Regions from separate parts of the Homo sapiens genome. Here region 1 is linked to region 2. Evidence: fine-mapped expression QTL. A gene starts in region 2. The other region holds a variant in brackets. All regions are shown on one strand. Distances are from middle to middle.

Region 1 (5,390 bases), 340 kb after region 2:
CCAGATGTTACATGGAAAAATGAGTTGCTGTTAAAGATGAGATTTTTTTTACATATAGGCCAAGTAAGCTAGCCCTTGCCTTGATCTCGGGGGCCCATCAGCTTAACATAGTGATTGAGCACACTGCCTATTAGTCATACTAGTGAGTACAAATCCCAGCTCCACCACTTGCTAGCTGTGTGACATGAGGCAAATTATTAAACTCTATTGTGGCTCAGTTTCCTCATTTGTGAGAAGGGATCCAAATATGATATATCTCATAGAGTTGTCATGAAGCTTCAAATGCCTAACACATAGTGTGTGCTCCATAAATGTAAGCTAGTATTATGATCATCAATCTGGAGTGTCCCTTTGCCAGTTATTTTGTATTCAGAAGGCCTCTGAAAAGATATATACATTAATGAAAAAACAAGAGCATGAGCTGCCTGATTCATTTCTCTGATAATTCTGTCAATTTATCACCCAGGATAGGGGATACTGGGGGGAAGAAAAAATGAGTCCAGCTGTGTGGAAGCAAGAGTGTGAGTTCTTCTCCGCAAGGGCTTTGCTATATACAAAGCAGTATGATGCAGGAGATAGCATGAGTCTCTCACCAACATGCATTTGAGGGCAAGCCCTGCCTCTTGCGGTGGTGAGACCTTCTACAAATTACTTCATCTCTCTAATCCTTGGTTCACTCAAAAATAAAATATTCTAAGAATTTAAATGAGATTACATATGTAAAATACTTAGCTACAAGTTAGTGCCCAATTATTATTATTACTCTTGACAGATAATTGACTTGTATCAGTCAATTTATCACTCAGGAAAAGGATATTGCTCCTTTTTTTCAGCAATAATAATAATTGCTCCTTTTTTCAATAATAATAATTATTATTATTACTTTTACCTTGGGAGATAAGATAGAGTGGAGATACATGGGTAGTTCAGACAGGAAGAGACCAGGAGCCATAGTATGAAGGCACAGAACACATTTAACATGGTTTACAAAAAGGGCAGTGGTCGGGGTGTTCATACACCAGCTGGGCCCTTCCCACTATCTATCCCTCCCAGTGAACTGCCAACTGTCATATTCATCAGTCAGTCAACAAGTTTTATTGAGTCCCTCCTACAGGCTGGGCACTTTTCCAGGTGCCAATTTTAAAGCAGTGAACATGACAGGCAATAGTCCCACTCTTAGTTAGCTTACATTCTGTGAGGACTCTTGGATAATCAGGTGAGCGAAGAAGCAGGGAGGATAATTTCAGATTGCAAAAAGACAATAGGTTAGATAGGGAGTGCTGTGGGAGAAGGTACTGTAGCTAGAGGCGAAGAAAGGCCCACTGAAGAGGTAAAATTTAGCTAGGCTAGAAGGAAAAAGGGCCAGCCTCATCAGGTTCTCCAGAAAGGGCATTCCATTTACAGGGCTCTGCATATCAAAGGTCTTGAAGTGAAAATGATCTTGGCCTCTTCCCAGGCCCATGTGGCTGCTGCATGTAGGAGACCATGCTGAAAAGGGTAGCAGAGCCCAGGGCTAGGAGGGACTTGTAGGCCAAGCAAGGGGCGTGGATAGCAAGTGCTGCATGAAGCCAAAAAGGGCTTGAAGCAAGGGAGCAAGGTGATGGATTGACCATACAGTCTCTTGCCATGAACTCAAAAACTCACCAACCAGTAGCCATGTAGACTTTATAAGACTTGCATCCATTTATTTATTCTTGACAACAAACCAGTGAGGTGACTGAAGTAGGAATTTTGCTCGCCTAATTTTGTAAATAAGAAAACTAAGGCTCAGAGTGTCCAAATTTCCTAACTTGATGCCTCATCCAGTCAGAGTAAAATCAGTTAGTGGCAGAGGTATGGGGTCCAACCTAGGTTTTGGGATTCCAATCCTGACTTCTATCTCTTACAAGGAATTCAGTTCACTCTTCCTATTTATTCTACTAAGTATTTCTTTAAGTTTTGATTATTTTTCTCCTGTTTGTTTTTCACACCTTATGATTCCTATTTGATTTCCCATTAGGTCCTGCCAACTAAGGGTAAACTCCTAGGATGTATGTGTTAGGCTTCTGTGAGTGGTAATAACCACAGAGCTACAAGAATCACTGAACGCATAAATATGACATGACTCTTCTTGCCAATCCCCTCGTGGAAGTGCGTGCTGAGCTTAAGGAGAAGCCTGGTGAGGGGTTCAGACCGGCAATGTAGACAGAAGCATTTGATCAACATCTACAAAGATTTCATGGGCCCTTCCAGACCTTTCCACAAACTGTGCTCATTAAAACAACAGGCACAGTAATTTGTGTTATATGCTAAGTGCAACATTTGTGATTCAGTATTTGTGGTATTTACGGTTTTCTACTTTACTGGACCAAAAATGCACAGAACCCCGAATAACAGCAGTCAAAGACAGCTTTACATATGTGCTCTGACCCGGAAAATGAAAGGAGTTTCTTAAAATTTAATGAGAGGTAGAAAGAAACACTGGTTCTTTTCAAAATTTTAGTATTGACAGTACTAGTAGTGGTACTTGTAGTGATTTAGCTATAAAAGTAAGATATACTTGGGTGTAATGGTAAAGATTTAGGGAAATTGTGCTGTATTAATCAAACAAAATAAAGAAAATGTTCATTAACTGCATAGTTTGTAAGCGCCACTTTTTTTTACTGTTTGTTAGGAAGATGGAGGCATGCACTGGAAACACTAATTCTAATTATTACTGTAAGTGGGAGTTTCTGGCACAAGGTCAAGAAATAATAGGAGAATGTGTGAATCTCAGTATTGAGCTGCAGTAAGCCTAATCATTTGAATAAAGCCAGTTGTTTTTTCTTGGACCGTCTCTGGGTTGTTCAGTGTTCTGGATGAATCTAACACAATCAGGCTGTTCTCTGGTGTATAACCACTTCCTGCTGACTCAGGGCAACTTGCTTCCTCTGCCGTTTATTAAAATGAAACATTCATATTAAAACCCCAT[T/C]TTTTAGTGATGACCAAATGTACATTAGTAATGACATTATTAAAACTGTTTTGTTTAAAATGAACTTTCACACTAGCGTGTTGCAAAGCGGCACAAACAAATCTATGTGATTTCACTAGAGATGGTTTAAAAAGCTTGCAGATCTTTCTGGCACTATTACAGAAGGGGATTTGATGTCTGTTTCAGGAGACAATCTAAGTTTTTATGGCCATAAAAAAATGAATACTGTTCCAGTACTCCACATAGAAAATAATGTATAATTTATAATGTTTCATTAACATGCAAATGTGAAATAGTGTCTTCTATGTTTATGTCTACTAATAATCTATCAAATATTTAGAGGCATAGTAAAGAATACTAAAATATTTTGTCTCAGCACTGTTTAAATAGATTTTTCCCTCATTTTTATTTGTTTGTTCATTTATTTATTTATTATTTTTCACTTTTGAGATGGAGTCTCACTCTGTCTCCCAGGCTGGAGTGCGGTGGTGCAATCTCAGCTCACTGCAACCTCCACCTCCCGGGTTCAGGCGATTCTCATGCCTCAACCTTTCAAGTAGCTGGGACTAAAGGCACATGCCACCAAGCTTGGCTAATTTTTTTATTTTTAGTAGAGACAGGGTTTCACTATGTTGGCCAGATTGGTCTAGAGCTCCTGATCCTCAAGTGATCCTCCTGCCTCGGCTTCCCAAAGTGCTGGGATTATGGGTATGAGCCACCTTACCCAGCCCTGTCCATATATTCACATATGCAAAAATGTGGGAGAAGCAGATAAGCAAATAATCAATTTAGTAATGGTGTTTGTAAAATAAGACAATAACCCGAATCTTTATATAGTTCTTGTAACTTTTCATAACATTTTCACATAGGATGTCTTGGCCAGCCACAGCAACAATAACATGAGGCTGATATTCTCCCCATTTCATGGATGATAAAACTAAGCCAATGGTTAACTGGATTGTTTTGTAAATATTTGGCCACCCAGTCAGCACAATGTCCTAGGAGTCATGCTTTATAATTCACTGCACCTCATTGCTAAACAGAATCTTAGGTATAAGATCAGAGTTCCAAGGTTTTAATAAATATATTTGGCTAAGACCATTACATATAGTTTGCACTGGCTATAGAATCTGAAATTATCAGTTCTATTTCTAGAGTGCTGAGAGTCTCCATTGGTTCATCCTACAAATATTCACTTAGCAAAGCATTATGCTCCTATGTGCTCAGCATTCTTACCAGGAGCCTGATGGGAACCAGAGATGAATCAGACACAGACATGACATCAACAGTAGAACAGTAGAGTCCAGAAGACAAGCTATGGAAGAAAATTACTGTAATAAAAGTAGAATTGCATCAGAAGCCATTAAAAGGGTACAGAAAATGTTTAAAGGAAAGAAAGAATGCTTTCAGATGGAGAGAGGATTTAGGCAGACTTCACTGAGGACTTATGGATCCAGGATCCAGTGATTGAAAGAAACCATTGAAGATCTAAAGCCCAATCAAGTGGTGTTTTAAGAAGTTTAATCCCAGAGGCCATGTGGCAAACTAGAGGGAGGAAGGACGGTTAGCTGGCTATTAAAGTATTTAGGAATAAGGGAACAAATTCCCAAACAAAAGGATGATGGAAATCAATAGAAAAGAAATACTTCAAAGTCAAAATTCTGGAAAAATTCTTACAACCAAACACTGACTATTTTCAATAAGGCATCAGTGGGGTGTCAGTAACGACTTGGAGTTCAGTCAGGATTATGGCAGAATATTGAATCCCCTCCTTCCTCTCTTAGTGTGTTCTGGGTTTTATTTTTACTTTTGTTTTGTAGAGACAGGGCCTCGCTATGTTGCCCAGGCTAATCTTGAACTCTTGGTGTCAAGACATCCTCCCACCTTGGCCTCCCAAAGCACTGGGATTACAGGGCTGAGCTACTGTGTTCTGGGTTTTCAAATTTCTCTACAGCGACAATTTTATTATTATTGCCTTCAGTGTAGTTTTTACGGAATAAGTCTGGTTGCATTAGGACATTTAAAAGAAATAAATCTAATACAAGTGAAATTATTCTTACAAGTTACATGAATGACTTGATACAGCCTATGTCTTCAAGGAATTTGGAGTTGAATGAAAATGTCTTTAATCACTGTACTGGGATCTCCATATATTTGAAGTGAAATTAAGGACTGGGTTACCTTTTGACAGTATAACTCCTCAACTCACAAACTTTGGCTGTTACTCCTTTGGCCAAACCTGGAGACTGACCTCCATTACAAATCTTAAGCATATTAGAAATAATCTAGCAAACTGAAGTGTAAGTAAAGGAATAGAGAGATAGCTACAAAGATTATACACATTAAAAATATCACAATGGCTGAAAATCCTTCCAGACTGCATTTTGAATCTGTTTCAAAGAGAGAGTACTTGGGTAATATTTGAAGCCACAGGTACCTG
Region 2 (5,390 bases):
TTCCTGCCCAAATCCAAATGGCCGCTCTATTTCCAATTCTGAAAGACAAATCACAAAATCAAATACTTAACACAGAAGAGTGCTGTCTTTCCAGTGAGGAGGGAAGATGTGGCAAGGCTTTTTGGGCACAAGTGGGAGTGACAAGTAACCTTCAGTTTACCTGGTGCTCTCCCAGTGCTTTCCTCTGCACTTCTCTGCTTGGTACCCAGTCTGGTCTCGGCCAGTCCACTCTAGGTGGTATGATTGAGTGCCATGGCGGCCAGAGAACCCTGTAAGAGACGTGAATAGTTACCCACACAAATACAAATATATTTGCCTAGACGGCTTTGGGAAGAAGTGAGGCTTAAATAAAGATAGGTCATGCATGGGTGAAATTTTCAGTAGTGTGTTTTGGAAATGCACTTTTCTCAAGCCCAAGATCATGGAAAATAAACACTCATTCAATTTACTACTTGAAATCAAATACTTATAGATGTACAAAAATAGGCGTCTTTCCTTTGAAGGCCTTATAGCTATACAACATAATGATTTTTAAAGAAAAAAAAAAGCTTGAAGGCACACAGTAATTAAACCCATTTTCCATAGTGTCAAAACTCACTGAGTTGACAAGCTGGTAGACTTTCTATGATTTAAGCATCATTTTATATCACTACAATGTTTAATTTCATAGCACACTTTTAAAATATATACTATAAATGCATTGCTGTACAGCTGTTGTGGACACCTCTACAGAAAAACCTTTGAAGCTCTGTGTTCATAAATATTATTTTAAGAAGAAAAAGCCAATAAAAACTCATTTGCAAAGTGACTGTAATTTTGGCATTCAGAGAGAGAATCTCTGTGATTCTTTGATGATCAATATGGCTCTTACTGGAAAAGCTTTGTCTTAAGATCCTGCAGTGGATATTCTGATAATGGGGGTTTATTGTTCACTAAATAAAATGGACAAGTGCAACGTCACTACCCAAGACATGGTGTAGCTTCCTTAGAAAGTTCTCAATTTGCTTTCCCCTTTACTCTCAAATACATGAAAGTACATCCATGTAAGGGGAATGGGGGGGAATATGGAAACATGGCAATAGACATTATGATTTCCCAAATTATGTAAGTGCAAATAGCTCTTCATCAAGGAGTAATTATATAACAGAATCTCTCCCACTACCACAACTCATCTCTAACTGACCTGGTTGCAATTTAAGGTGCTTAGGTTGTGTTTGCTCTTATTTTTTTAAAAATTATAATACTTCTCCGGGCACACCAACTCATCATTTTCTTGACATGTTACTTACAGATGGAAAAATCAACATGAATTCTAGGTTTTATGAATAGATGTTTAATATATAATGTCTGAACCTAAAATAACTAGAAAGAAAACCAATATAGCCCAACTACCAGACTGTTTTACATTATTTTCAGATAACTCTTAAGTACACCACTTACAAAAGGACAGATACCAATAAAACAAATAAATAAGCACTATTTTCTGTTGTTACCTAACATAGGTATAAAGTGGAGCTTTTCTCTGGTGCTAGACAAAAAAAAAATTCAGAAAGCTGACAGGTTCTCTTCAGCTTGAACTCCTAGAAACAAAAGCCCTTAGGGAAAGTAATGCAATAGTCTATGAGCAAAGTGTACATTTGCTTCTGCACTCTTCTATTTAAATCTCAACTAATATTAAAAGGAAAACAAGAAACACACTATACAGATAGGCTTGGATTTAGTAAATGGAACGTTATAAACTCAAAAGGATGGTCAAGGGAGGCACACACACACACACACACACACACACACACACACACCCCAATACACAGGGCATCAGAATCACAGCATAAATACCCACACAGCTTTTCAATGCTTTCCAAGTAGTCTCCTTCAGTTTTGCTTCCTCACAATTAAAATAAAATATATACACACACTGACCCACAGACTCGCACGCTTTAAGAAACTAGAACAACGCAGTTGATATGCTTTCTTTCTACCCAAGTAGCAGTGCCAGCCTTTTCCCTACCTACCCAATGTTCCACCAGCTTCAGCACCTGGACGAATGGACAGCTCAACCCGGGCCGACTGCCGGCAGCACTCGCAGCAGAACTGACGCTCTGAGCTCTAACCAAAGCTCTCTCGTGCTTGAGCGGGGCAGCCTGACTTACGAGAACACCATTTCCTACGAGACCACTGCCGCTGGGTGCATATTCAATTCAAGCCTCCTTAAGCTGTCGGATTTCCCCCACCCATCCACCCTCCCCCCCTTCTCCACCCTCCACACAAAAACAAAAAAGGGAAAAAGCCCAATACCATCAGGGCGTTTGTTGATCAACTTACACTTCGCTTTTGAATATTTAGATACTGCTAGCGGAACAATATCAGCGGAGGCTTAGGTCCGCATTAAGTACCTTTGTTCATCGACTCCTGCAAGCCATGTTTATTAGAATCTACATTTCTCTCGCGCCCCAATAACTAGAGGTGTGTTTTGCGGGCAGGGGGCTTTCAGCACCTTTTGATCTCTCAAGGCCACCGCGACTGATTGACGGTTCCCAGTACTTTCCTATGCTATCCCCCATACTCCAACACCCATCCCAGTTAATCGCTTCGCAATTTGCAACCAAAAATACATAAAGAAACGCGACAAAGCAATGGGTTTGAGGAAATAAGCCAATTAAGCTAAAGCTGAAATGCCTCTCTCTCTCTCTCTCTCTCTCTCCCCCCCTTCTCCCTCTTTCTCTTCCCCCTTGACTCCCTCCCTCTCCCTCTCTCCTTCCCTCTCAAGTAGAAAGGGGGAAACACCAAGGAGAGAGAAAAAATCGGGAGGAGGGTGGTAGTCGACTCTTACAGTCAATGGAAAAAGAGTATACACATCTTTACTGAATAATACTCTCGTTCTCAGACAAAAAGAAACACATTTTTCGATGTAAACATAGTCTGCCTCTGCCATACATCCTACATCCTTTACGTTTGCTGAGATTTGTCTTGCTGTATGGCAAAGTAACTGTCACAAATCCATCTCGATTGAAGTGCTTACCCTCTAAATCCAGGTTTCAAGCGGAACTCCAACTGTGTGTAGAAGCCAGGGAGTCATCTGATGTGCAGTGAGGTAGGCTCTGGGCAGTGTGAGCTGCTTCTTCTCTCCGAGTGCCGGGTTACAGTGTTAACAAGCCTTGGGAAGGGACCTCGGCGCCTCGCGCTGGCTGTGCCCCAGTGCCTTCGCGTGGTGGCGGCTTGCTCATGCTTCCGAGGAGTCCCAGGCGATAGCCTTCAGCTGATGCGAGCTTCCAGAAAGGAGTGGGGAAGGGAAAAAATCATCTAATGCAATCAAATCGATCTGATCTACACCATCTGTCGCCTGCCACTATACACAAACGTTAAAATAGGAAAACGGAAAACACTGACAGCCGAGAGGGTTGGTCTGCAAAGAGTTCATTTTTAGCAGAGCATAATTCGATATGGTCGGCGTACAGTTACAAAAGCTGCTGTTAACCATCCAGTAGTGGATCCCAAACATGCTAATGGTGGATTAATTGAGGAAGATCTGACGTGCAAGCTTCATAGTCTCTTATTCATGACTTCCCAATGGGAAAGGACCAATGCCTTGTGGGACTATGGTAACATACAGTCAAAAAGCTGCTAAGAAAATGGCTGTGTGTTCACAGCACCTCTCTCTGATAACAAACATATGTCGACTAAAATGGTTTAGTAGAATGGGAGGGGGTGTTGGAGAATAAAATTTTCTTTCCCCGTGTAAGCAATCCCCATTTTCTTTTCTTAAAGAAAAGCAAAAACAGATATGATCTCTTTACCATAGTGGGGGGAAAAGGATGTTTTAAAAGGTTTTTATCAAGATCAAACTCTGCCATATAAAAGAAACGGAACACTCCTGTGCAGCAATTCTTTAAAAAAAAAATCTATTCTCATTTTTTTCCTTACTGTGATCAAAGTAGATCCATAGCATGTGCAGTATACAGAAACTCAGTCCAGTTAATCCCACCAGGATTGATTCAAGGTTGTTTAATGCCAGGTACCCTTTTGACTTCTTAAAACCAGGATGCCTTTTGGGGAAGGCATTTTGTATCATTTAAAATTGACATAATGAACATTAAGTATGATTGCAGTGAGGAGATGAGAAGAGTTTTCCTTTCTAATTCTGTAATTACTCTCTCTAGCCAAAACCCCTTTTGGTCTGTTTCCAGTCTTCCCAGATCAGTTGATGGGGAAATATAGGGATGGGGGAGGGAGTGGAAATACCGAGAAGGAGGGAAAGAGAGTGTGGATTATCGATAGCCAATAAATTCTATTCCACTTGTAATAGAAAAATATATAGCAATAAAAGAGATAACTCACTAATTGTTGATCGTGATTTTAAGTTTAAACCAGTTTTAAAAAATAATGTTTGATACATGGAAAGAAGACATATTGCAAACAATGGGATGACTGCCCCCCACCCATTTATAGTTATAGGTTTAAAAAATATTGAAATAGGGTTTATTATCTAGATATGTGACTATCTTTTATTAAATATATCTCAAAATTCCATATTTCCTCTGATTTTTGTCATCCATTTGAACACTGAAAACTATGGTCACTTTGATTCTGCTGTCTTTTCTTTGGTAACATACATTACATAAATTCTGTAGTAAACAATTAGTGTTCAGGAAAATTCTAAAGATGAATGTGTCTCCTAAAACTTTGATAATCTCTTTAAGGAAAAAAAAACCTAACAGTTATGAATTAAATTAGTCTAAAAATATAGCTTGAAGACAAATCAAACAATTTACCTGATCTTTTGTTTCAATATACATTAATTAAGCACTCTTTCCAACCTACACAACATTCCAGGGTCATAGTCAGATATTCAAGTCTAATAGTTCAGCAGCCTTTGTTGTCATTCGTGTCAAGCTATTGCCCCCTGCAGGTTAGGCTGAAAGTGCAGGCAGAATTTGGCCAAGTCCTCAGGAAATTGATGGTACACAAGTTACTCAGTCTCTCCCAATATTTAACTAGAGTCAACTTTTTAAGTTTGCTTTCATTATGGTTTAAACTATTTATTTACAGATAGGTAGTACATTAAGAAAAATGCTCTTTAAAGATGTGACTTCAGTTTTTCTTCTGAGAATTTAGCTGCATTGAGTAAACCATCCACTTTGTTGTGATACAAGGAGCATTTTGACACATTTAGTATAGTTTTCTTCATCTTCCCTTATCCTTATTCCATAAGATCCAGCAAAATTAAAAAAAAAACATATGTAACAGGATTGGAATTATGAATTCTCATAATAAATATATAGCCCTGGGCAATTTGATATCAGTATGCTTTTGGTAGACTCAATGAAGTGTGTGCAAATCAAACCATTTCAGATTCTCCCTGCTCCTGATATGATGAGGTCAATTACACCATT

Direction of the effects. Positions count from the first base shown, and alleles are read on the strand shown. Sizes are in standard deviations (SD) of each study's normalised expression.
For the expression in fibroblasts of the gene that starts at base 3,335 in region 2, T is the high allele of the variant in region 1 and C is the other (small effect, 0.19 SD a copy in GTEx).

What was found. PIP is the estimated chance that this variant, and not a neighbour inherited with it, causes the effect.
Region 1: its variant is the best candidate, but not a certain one, in a credible set for the expression of MIR137HG in fibroblasts (GTEx, PIP 0.85).

What each region holds. Positions count from the first base shown.
Region 1 is chr1:98,385,778-98,391,167 of GRCh38, forward strand. No RefSeq gene overlaps it. Among named protein-coding and RNA genes, the nearest start is that of LINC01776, 180 kb to the left of the region's middle. The variant T/C (reference allele first, on the strand shown) is at 2,951.
Region 2 is chr1:98,046,359-98,051,748 of GRCh38, forward strand. MIR137HG (MIR137 host gene) reads right to left here and starts at 3,335. Exons shown (of 5, transcript NR_046105.1): 1 at 3,020-3,335; 2 at 161-269; 3 at 1-38.